Linked DNA regions of Homo sapiens. The protein of the gene in region 3 purifies or fractionates together with the protein of the main gene of each other region. This does not show direct contact. Each region holds a gene or a part of one and is shown on either strand. Other genes may lie near its edges.

What was found.
Region 1: the proteins of PFKFB2 (region 3) and RAB3IP purify together in Homo sapiens (affinity purification with mass spectrometry, with the first as the bait; one large-scale study listed by BioGRID). This does not show direct contact.
Region 2: the proteins of PFKFB2 (region 3) and SARNP purify together in Homo sapiens (affinity purification with mass spectrometry; one large-scale study listed by BioGRID and IntAct). This does not show direct contact.

Annotation. Positions count from the first base shown.
Region 1 is NC_000012.12:69,745,233-69,748,885, forward strand, and holds part of RAB3IP (rab-3A-interacting protein isoform alpha 1), read left to right. Parts: intron 1-3,653. UniProt on the Homo sapiens protein: Guanine nucleotide exchange factor (GEF) which may activate RAB8A and RAB8B. Promotes the exchange of GDP to GTP, converting inactive GDP-bound Rab proteins into their active GTP-bound form.
Region 2 is NC_000012.12:55,797,081-55,800,733, forward strand, and holds part of SARNP (SAP domain-containing ribonucleoprotein), read right to left. Parts: intron 3,550-3,653; coding exon 3,482-3,549; intron 1-3,481. UniProt on the Homo sapiens protein: Binds both single-stranded and double-stranded DNA with higher affinity for the single-stranded form. Specifically binds to scaffold/matrix attachment region DNA. Also binds single-stranded RNA. Enhances RNA unwinding activity of DDX39A.
Region 3 is NC_000001.11:207,066,763-207,070,415, reverse strand, and holds part of PFKFB2 (6-phosphofructo-2-kinase/fructose-2,6-bisphosphatase 2), read right to left. Parts: intron 2,918-3,653; coding exon 2,710-2,917; intron 2,254-2,709; coding exon 2,107-2,253; intron 993-2,106; coding exon 888-992; intron 137-887; coding exon 7-136; intron 1-6. UniProt on the Homo sapiens protein: Synthesis and degradation of fructose 2,6-bisphosphate.

The DNA.
Region 1 (3,653 bases), on a different chromosome or scaffold from region 3:
TTAACTGCAGTACTTTTACAAACTTTGTTCTTTATTTATTTTTTCATTTTAATCTACATTTCCTGCTTTTATTATTACAAATTTTCAAAAATTAACACTAATTCCTTGGTATAAAATATCTACACTTTTTAAAAAAATACACAGGAATATGGGTACTATAGTAAATTCAAGTTTCTGTTTATTTTGATTTATGTGCTGTTTTTTTTTTTCCAAGTCCTGTAAGGAGCTGAATAAGTATTAAATTCTGGCATAGTAACAAAACAGAGGAGGAAATGATAACAAAAATAATATAGGGGAAAATAATAGAACACAAAGCAATAGCAAATGCTCATTTCAATAGCAGTGCTTTAGAGAAACTTCAGTTTTGTCTTTGTGAAAGTAAGAGAAGGGTTCAGAGATTAAACATTATTATTCTGTTTGGATTGTTCACTTCTTTTTTTTTAAACTTTAAGTTCTGGGATACCATGTGCAGAACATGCAGGTTTGTTACATAGGTATACACGTGCCATGGTGGTTTACTGCACCCAGGATTGTTCACTTCTTAGAGATCCTTTGCTGTGCTTTAACCTTTATTCCCATCTCCCTACTCCCTATCCATTTCAGCTTCTAAGTGTATCTCAGATGTAGTGGAGTTAGGTGTTAGAGTCAGACACACCAGAGTTTGAATACTAGCTCTGTTACTTTTTGTGTATTTGACAAAATTAATCTCTCTCAGCCTCTTTTTTTTATATATCTGTAAAGTAGGGATAAGAACCATTTCAAATGAATGCTCTGAAGATTAACTGGAATAATTGTGTGTTTGTGAATAAATATAAATGAAGCTGTTCTGAATGTTTTCCATACGTATATATGCCTCCATCCCCTCATTCCCAGTGCATGACCTTGGCATTAGATCAGACAGTAATCGTTTAACCAGCCTCTAGTCTCCAGTGAAGTTCTCATTGCCTTGGGAGTCATTTTTAAATGACTACATTACAATACATCTATACTTTCTAAAATGTAGATCTCACCATCTCTTCAGGATAAACTTTAAGCAACATTTTCTCTTTTAAAGAAGGCTTTTAATGGTCTGTCACAGTCTGCCTCTCCAGCCTGCTTTTCTGTTACTGTCTCCTTTGTTAGTTTTGTTAGTGCCAGACCCTTATTCCCTGACTGTCCTATCCTATTCCCCTTGCCCATCTACTGGACTTGTATTCAGCACTGAAAATCTGACTTATATTTTACTTCTCTTTGAGACATTCTCCTCTTCCCTCTTCCCTCCCCACAACCCTCAGAATAATCATGCCGTGGCTCGTAGAGGCTGTGTGCCATCTCTTTGGTCCATTTGTATCTGTATTCTTAGCACTTAGTATCAGGATTTGCCCGGAGGTGTTGAAGCTGGCAATCATCCTTCCATTCCAACAAGAATAAATATAATTTATCACATATATGTATGAAATAAATGTATTTAATATGTATAATAAATGTTGAAGGTTTTTAAAGAAGTGATGGAATTTGTAACTAATTCATGGAATTTATAACAGTTCAATTCATTATATGCTATTGAAGTAGCAGTCTCATTTTTAATCTCAGAAACTGTTTCTTTCATAATTCATGTTAAATTAAGAAGTCATTTGGGAATTTAAAAAGCATCTGGACTTTCCTCCCTGCCCCCCTTCCACAACTGTCTGTGAATAAATTGAAAGAGGAAAATAGTGCTTACATAATCTTAAACCTTTTCTTTTGACATGTCTTGGAATATTTAATTTCTATTATTGTGATAATACAAGTAAAACAAAATTATACTACAGGATTTATAGATGTTTACTTTTTTTGAGGAAAATCACTCAAAACAATAAGCTTTTAAACCCAAACTCAACAATCATTGCTTTTTGTTCTTAGTGATAGTGCTTGTGCTGATACAATATGATCAAAATATTTGGCCAGTATTAGGAAATGTCCTAGAGATGATTATAATAGTAAGAGCCAGTCTTAATTGGTAAGTGCCAGATATGGTGCTAAGCTCTTTAATTCTCATGACTACCTTAGGAGATAGGTACAGTTTTCTCCCCTTGCCCTTTCGTGTGTGTGTGTGTGTGTGTGTGTGTGTGTGTGTGTGTGAGAGAGAGAGAGAGAGAGGATCTTTCTCTGTTGCTCAGGCTGGAGTGCAGTGGCACAATCACAGTTCGCTATAGCCTCAACCTTCCTGGCTCAGGAGTAGCTGGGACCACAGGCGTATGCCACCACACTCTGCTAATTTTTAAATTTTTTGTAGAGATGGGGTCTCGCTATGTTGCTTTTGGTTGTTGCTTAAACATCTTGGGCACAAGCAACCGTCCTGTCTTGGCCTTCCAAAGTTCTGAGATTACAAGAACCACTGTGCCTGACCTGTCATCTCCATTTTTAGATGAGAAATTGAGACTTAGATCTTCAGGTCACTTTATTAGTAACTGGTGAAGCCAAGATTTGAGACTGATTCCAGAGTACAAGCTATTTCATGAGATAGTGAATACTGGTTAAGTTACCCTGTTGGCTTTTCTTCTAGTAGACAAGTACATTCCTTTATCTACCAGGATTATTTGATCCAATTCTACACTGAAATAGATGAAGATATTTGGGCTCAGATAAGTTACCTGCCCAGGTTCATAGATAGATCTCAGAGCTTGATCAGGAGCCTTAGCTTTCTTCTTCAGGTACTGATGCTTCTACTCTGCTGTGTTGCCATATTACCTCCTTTGTTGGAAATGATTTACTTTCTGAGTGTAGTGCTTTGAGGAATTTTAGTAAACATAGAATTCAAATTATTTAATTTTCACATATATTAAATTGATATGAAAAAAGATAAAAATCACAGCTTTAGTTTTTTTTTTTTTTTCTAAAATTAAAATTCTATGTTTCCCATTTGTCAAGGTAAGTCCAAATTAGGGGAATGTGCTTTTTGTGGAAAAATGGATTTTATTTTTTCTTTTGGACTACTGATATAAATCAAGTTGCTAGATTTCATTTAAAATATGTATATGCATTTTATTCATGTTCTTCAGATGTTTCATTGAAAATATTTTCCCATTAATTCTGATTTCTTGAGTTGTCCTAGGGATGGCTTTTGTTTTCAAGAAACATTTTAAAAATTCACTTTAATTAGAAAAAGTAAATTTCATAAGTTATTAGGATCTTTCTAGGCATTTATTAAATGAGTTAATATGTATGAAATTCTTAGCACCACTATCTGACAACATAGTTAACCTTCAGTAAAGATTGGCTGTTGTTTTTGCTGTGATAGTACTGATTTCGAGAAAGAAAAATTAACAGGAAATGCATATTAGGGATCAGAAGCAAATTGTTTTGATCAACTTTTTCTTGTGGTCTGCAGTCTGCTTTATTACCTGGAGCTCAGTAATAAGGCCAGCCAAGTTGTGTTGGTGATTCACCCATAAGAATTTAATGTGATCATCTTTTTTACATATTGGTCATGATCCTTGACAAGTTTAATTTACTAATTGGGATAATCAGTTGAAATTAGTTCTTTTTGAATCACTCATTGCTTAATGCGAAAGATACTACTGCTTAAAAATAGTAGTTTATTTTACTCTTATAAAGACGTATGTGAAATAAATCTTAAAGCTTCTATGTATTTAAAGGGCAAAAGATTTTCAGACCAGTGAGATTGGCAGCTC
Region 2 (3,653 bases), on a different chromosome or scaffold from region 3:
CCAGTCTCATTAAGGTCCCTCATTTAGAGACATGGGCAGCTTTTGTTCCAATATCCTGAACACTTTTCCCATTTGATGCCCTGAAAGGTAGTAATGGTTTAATGACATTTTCAGAGGAAGCAATTCTGGAATAAGAACTTACTCTCTTCCACCCTTTTATTGGAAATCCCTGGACTGAAGACAAGCAATGGGTGCCCCCTGCTGACTATAACGAAGTCCTACGATATGTAACCGCTTTAGCTGGTTGGGGGTTGGGAATCAAACTAGAAACAGGTATATTTTTGGAGAACTTCAGGCCAAACATGAAGAAGGGGATCTCCTTTTAAATAGTCAAGGAATCTAAACTAGCCCTGGCTATTCTGACGTTTAAAGAAATTTCTAAACGCTTCCCATTTCCTTGCCATCCTTCCCTAACCTTGTCTTATAATTTAGGCACAAAAGGCTAAAGTTTAATGTTTTACTTGAAATCCAATGCCATCAAGAAAGTAGTACTCTCCATCAACCCCAGTGTAATGACTTCCTCCCCATTACCATTCTGAAGCACAGTCAATGCAGTGCACATCATGGCAGAAAGGGAACCCCAGACGGGAAGTTTCCTTCCATTCTATTACAATTCCCTTAGGCAACTAAACTCAAGCGCAATAAATAAACATCGAATTCTGGGATGCATGGGAAATTTCCACTCTTCACTGAGAAATTTCTCTCCTACCCAATCACATAAACAACATTCCCTGAAATACAGAGACCCAGAATCTTTTTGTACATACTTCAGTCTAACCACAACTATCCTCTAAAAATCAAAAACGATCACCCCACCCACTTCAATTTCCTTGTTTCAAAATTCATTAATAGAATTAAAGCCCCCTGAACAGAATGCACATTTTAAATATTCTATGAATAATGAACTTCAAACTTTCGAACCTCTATTTTTTAACCCACAGAAGCCAATTATCATGGTATTCACTTGATCTTCTTTCTTGTTCCAGAAATCCCCATAACATTTCTATTTTAAAGCTATCTCACAAAGTCATTTTTTCAAGGCACTATATCTAATTATAAACATCTTATGATGGAAAGATAACTAAATGGCTTTAGAAAGTAGTATTTGATAGGCTGGAAAGTAGTATTTGATAGGCAGGTGATTACTGGCTCACACCTGTAATCCCAGCACTTTGGGAGGCCAAGGCAGGTGGATCGCTTTGAGCTCAAGAGTTTGAGACCAGCCTGGCAAACACGGCGAAACCCCATCTCTACAAAAAATACAAAAAAAGAGCTGGGTGTAGTGGCTCGTGCCTGTAGTTCCAGCTACTCAGGAGGCTGAAGCTGGAGGACTGCTTGAGCCGGGAAACGGAGGTTGCAGTGAGCCAAGATTGTGCCACTGCACTCCAGCCTGGACAACGGAGTGAGTCCCTGTCTCAAAAATAAATAAATAAAGGGATATTTGACAAAAATCTATCAAGATGTTAAATGTACATCCTCTGTGATGCAGCAAATCCACTGCTAGGAATTTACCCTGTGGGTATACTTGTGAGTATAAATAATTAGAAAAGGACATGCAGAACTACATTTTTTTTTAATGAATAATCTAAATGTCCATCAACAGAAGACTGGTGAAATAAATTACTGTTTATCCATAGAATGCAATACTATTAAATGCTAGAAAGAACAAGGTTCTAAGTTGATAACTAGTAAATCTGGGTGATAGGTAGATGAGAGTCTATTACACTAGTCGAACTTTTGTATATACTTGTAATTTCCCATAATAAGCTAAACAAAAAGAGACCACTTCCTAGGATAATTATCCTGACTTTACAGGGTCTACTGAGGATAAAATGACAGTACATGTAAAACATTCAGAACAATGCCTAGCATATAACTCTTAAGAACAATGCCTAGCATATAACTAACACTTACATAAGAAAATGATGATATAAAAAATTTCCAGATGTGAAAAAAAATCAAGTGTGCACAGTGTGTGTATACGTGTATCTATATATACACATACATACATATACACATGTACAGACCCCATATATAAAATCTTCCAAAAGTATGTACTGTTCTAAAAACCTCAGTAAAGTCAGATCTGAGAATGGATACAAAGAGTACTTAATTCTTAATTGATATACTCCACTATGTACTGACTTTTTACTTGTAAATACACTGCCTTTTATAATTAAATGCACTAACACAACTATGAGGAACAAAAATGTTCAAAGTTTAGGACTCAACGGCTCTTAATGTACTATAGTACAAAATGGCCAGACATTTGTGGAAAAAGCCCCAAATTAAAGATGTTTAGGATCACCCTTGTGGAACAGTTTAAACAAATCAAGATCTACTTTCCATTCTAGCACTTTGTCCTCCCATCCTCCACTGTAAATCAGAAAGCAAGAGAGAACAGAGTGCTACTTCAGAAACATAACCTCTACCCAACACCCTCCTCCCTTACAAAACTCCTTTATATAGAGTGTCACACTTTTTTTTTTTTTTTTCCCGAGACAGCTGTGGCTCCCAGGCTGGAGTGCAGTGCCACAGTCTCGGCTCACTGCAACCTCCACCTCCCAGGTTCAAGCAATTCTCCTGCCTCAGCCTCCCAAGTAGCTGGAATTACAGGTGCCCTCCACCACGCCCAACTAATTTTTGTATTTTTAGAAGAGACAGGGTTTCACCATCTTGGCCAGGCTGGTCTTGAACTCCTGACCTCGTAATCCACCCACCTCGGCCTCCCAAAGTGCTGGGATTACAAGTGTGTGCCACCGTGCCTGGCCTCAGTTTTACACTTTTCCAGAAAAGTGCAAAACTCTTATGAACAGTTAACAGAATGGGCCGGGCACGGTGGCTCACACCTGTAATCCCAGCACTTTGGGACGCCAAGGCAGACGGATCATTTGAGGTCAGGAGTTCAAAACCAGCCTGGCCAACATGGTAAAACCCTGTCTCTACTAAAAATACAAAAATCAGTCGGGCAGTAGTGGCACACACCTATAATCCCAGCTACTCGGGAGGCTGAGGCAGGAGAATTGCTTGAGCCTGGGAAGCAGAAGTTACGGTGAGCCAAGATCACGCCACTGCACTCCAGTCTGGGCAACAGAGTGAGATCCTGTCTCAAAAAAAAAAAAGTTAACAGAGTTTACACAGTTTTACACTGCATACAGAATTGTACAGATTCTCTATAGAGTAACAGAATAATCTATTATGGTGACCCTACAAAAGAACAACAAAGGCTAGGAGAATTAAACTATGTCTGGTCTTGAAGTCACCTGGTCCTCATTACCTATTACATAACTCAGAGACAATTTGCTTTACTTCACTGGGACCAAGTACTTTGAAGTAGTCCCTTCTAAAAAACAAAAAAATGACCTAATCAGAAAGGAAAAGGCCAATGGGAACATGTAAGAGGTAAACAAAGTTAAACATTAAATACATTAAGAAAAGAGCTGCCTGCTCTGTACTCAGATTATAAAAAAGGGATAATTACACATCAACAGTTTTTTCAGGGGGTTCTTCCTCTTTGACAGGGAGCTCAATGGGCTTTGTTTCTTCTTCCTAAAACCAAATGAAACAAGGTGGTTAACATAAATCTAAAGAATAAATATCTATCAAAAGAAGAACATCAGAACTCCAAAATAAACCAGTCTCTCAGAACCTTC
Region 3 (3,653 bases):
AGGCACCTGCGCCCTTATCCAAGAAGTAGGCCAGGAGGCAGCGCATGACAGCCTGGTGGGAGATGACGAGGACATTGCCCTGACGTTCCAGCTCCATGATGACAGGCTCCAGCCGCTGCACCAGGTCCTGGTATGACTGTGGAGGGAAATGGGGCAGGCTGGCAGGAGCCCAGGTGCAAGCTGGCAGCCAAGTCAGTGGCTGGACCTTGGAGACTAAGGGCCACTTCTTCTTCCTCAGCTGGCTTTCCTCCTGGAGGCTCAGTGAGTTTACATCACCTGCTAACTGCCCCCAGCCCTGGTATCTCTTGAGAAAACTCAGATCTTTCAAAAGCAATATTTAGACCAAGAAAACTACAGGTTAAGAAGAGGAAGTGTGAGTTCAACCTGTGTGTGTGTGTTTTTTCTTCCCACAGATTAATACAGGCAGTGAGACAAGAGACTCCTAGGGGTTTCCTGTACCTCTGCCATTCAGTTTTATTTACTTTTGCCTCACACATCCCTAGAGTATGGAAGCCACTTAGACAAGGAAATAGCCTAAAACACTCAAGATGACAGGGAAATAATTCCTATCCCATATATTTACTTGGTGACTCCACTTACTTATGTGGGGGTGGGATTGAGAGAGTACAAGGAAAAAAAGAAGTAAAAATGATTGTGTTGATTCTAAAACATACTGAACAGAGGATGCCTTGTCACCCTTATCCCTGGGAATCTTAACAATTAATGAGGCATTCGATTGTCTAAGCTGAATGAAACCAAAATGACCCAAGGGAAGGAAGATAAATGATGCCTAGACCCTCCAAATCACATTCAATCCTTCCCCCAAATTAAAGTTAAACACTCAGCAAGGGTCTAGGCAGTCACTTTACATGACAGGGGCGTCTTACCTCCCCACCAGGATATCGATACAGATACTTCTCTTGATCTCGAAGTGCAAACTCTTCTGGGTACCGTTTCTCAATCTCTGCATAGGTCATCTCTTCACACACACCCTGCAAAAAGCCACTTGAAGCTGGCTTGAAGAGATAGACTGTACCACACCAGCCCCATCCCAAATAAGGAAGATGACATTGAAGAATGCTAGTTTCTTAGTACGTGCCAGGCACTGTGCTGGGTCCTTTCATGTATTGCAGCTGCCTGTGACCAGAGTGTCACAGAGTGTCTGTGACTCACCGGGTGAGGACCACTGCCGGAAAGAGGCAACTTCTCTAGCTCAAGCTACCACATTCTCCTACTACTGGGGGGAACTTACAGGTCAAGAAAGTCAAGAGGCTAAAAGGAACAGGAAGCAGAGAAGGAGGGAAACTGAAGGGACTGGAGACCTTGCATGAAAAATAAAAGGGTAGAAGGAAGGAAAGAAAAAGAAATGTCGGCCGGGCACGGTGGCTCATGCCTGTAATCCCAACACTTTGGGTGGCCAAGGCGGGTGGATCACAAGGTCAGGAGTTCAAGACCAGCCTGGCCAAGATGGTGAAACCCCATCTCCCCTAAAACTACAAAAATTAGCCAGGCGTGGTGGCAGGTGCCTATAATCCCAGCTACTCGGGAGGCTGAGGGAGAGAATTGCTTGAACCCAGGAGGCAGAGGTTGCAGTGAGCCAGGATCACGCCACTGCACTCCAGCCTGGGCCACAGAGCGAGACTCCGTGTCACAAAAAAAAAAAAAGAAAGAAATGTCTACTTTTGTACTCAAGAAGAGAGAAAGCCAAGAGAAATTTTGGGAAAAACTTTTCCTGAATAGCTGACCAAATGATCTAAGCAGAAAGCAAAGAAGTGGGTTGTTAGCTATTTATTTTTCCCAGGAGGCAAATATACAAAGGAACAAAATGAGTCCTTGTTAGCCCTACTTTCCCCAGGTGCCAGAAAGGCTGGCTCAAAAATTGGTTTGGGTCCCATGATTGGCACAGGTACTGAATCAGGCAGGAAACCCCTGATTAGGGGTACAATTGTCCTCCCTGATCCCCCGGGCTGGCCATAGAGTCAGCTTCCTCAGAGTTTTTACTTGTTGGTTGTAGTTTCCTAGATAAAACTGTCTAAATAGTGACTTCTGAGAGTTCCTGCCTGAACTCTTGTTGGCTTTTCTGGGCCTTCAGAGCTTCCTACTCACAGCATCAATCTCATTCAGAATCTTCCACTGCTCATAGGGCACCCCGAGAGATTCAGCAGTCTGTATGGTCCTCTTCAACTGGCTTGTCCACACTTTGAGGTCTGTTATTTCCTGTTCCTCCAGAAATTTCCTTAGAGCTTGGGCAAACTGGGGTTTAAAAATGAAAATTAAGGGTAAAAAGAAAACACACAGACACACACACACACACACACACTCAACACACACATACACAAAGCCTGCTAACTTGGTCTGTAAGGGACAACGTGCATAACCATGGTCAAAATCCATAAGGTGCTACATAGTTAATATAAACCCAAAAGGAAATGAACTTTAACTGGAGCACCCTGTACATTGCTAAGTACACAAGTTGTGCCCAATGAATATCTGATGGTTGAATGATCACAGCAGAAATGGGTCAAAGTTATCTACTCTTTAACACAGAGCTAGACGCAGTGAGCAAGAACACACCTTGAGCACTTGCCTGACTATGAAACCACAGCCTACGTCCAAATGGGATTTAAGTAAGGAGATAAAATATATGACCTCAGTCATGCCCTTCTAACTCTAAGCCTAGAAAATCCAGTGTGCTGAATAATTACTCACCTGCTTTCCCCGCACCGAGAGGCCAGAGTCACCCCCAATCTTCCCCAAGAGATTGAACTCGCTTTCTCCATGCCGGCAAAGGTAAATGGTGCGAGGCTGGACGTGGATATTCATGAGGTAGTAGACTATCTTGCTCTGGATGTAGTCCTGGACTCTGTTGACTAAAAATCGCTGGCCCACGTTTATCACCTTGATGAAAGAAAGATCCCTGGGACAGGAAAGGAAAAAAAAAATTCCCTAGGTAAGAAGATCTGAGAATAAGAATCAGAGGGAAAAGGATTTCTACAGGGACTTGCAGGCTCACAGCTGCTCTTCCTCCCCTCCTCTGTCACACCCACGTTTATGGAACCAAATGGTAGGAGATTAATTACTCCTTAAAACCAAGATGAAGTACAATTTCCTGAACTTCTAGTAAGTTTGTACCATTTCCTCAGTGCCTGTAGTGTGACAAGTAATGTAGATAAATAGGATAAACAGAATTCAGCCTTCCCATCAGGGGCTAGACTAGGTGACCTGAAGATTTTGCTAAGCCCAAAATTTGGTGAGAAGAATAGGCCCCTTTTGAGGCAGTTAAGACCTGGCCAGAATATGGCACGACGAGCAACGAGGGGAAGGGAAGAGGCAGCAGAAGCACAGACAGAAATGTCTATATACTCCCTGCATCTACCTAATCATGCTTCTCTCAAAGACACTTTCAGACATTGCTTGCTTTGAGGCCAACATGAGATTGTTCTCTTTATAAAAGTCATAAGTGTGGCTGGATGCGGTAGCTCATGCCTGTAATCCTAGCACTTTGGGAGGCCAAGGTGGGTAGATCAGGAGATCAGGAGTTTGAGAACAGCCTGGCCAACATGGTGAATCCCCATCTCTACTAAAAATAAAAAAATTAGCCGGGCGTGGTGGCGGGTGCCTGTAATCCCAGCTACTCAGGAGGCTGAGGCAGG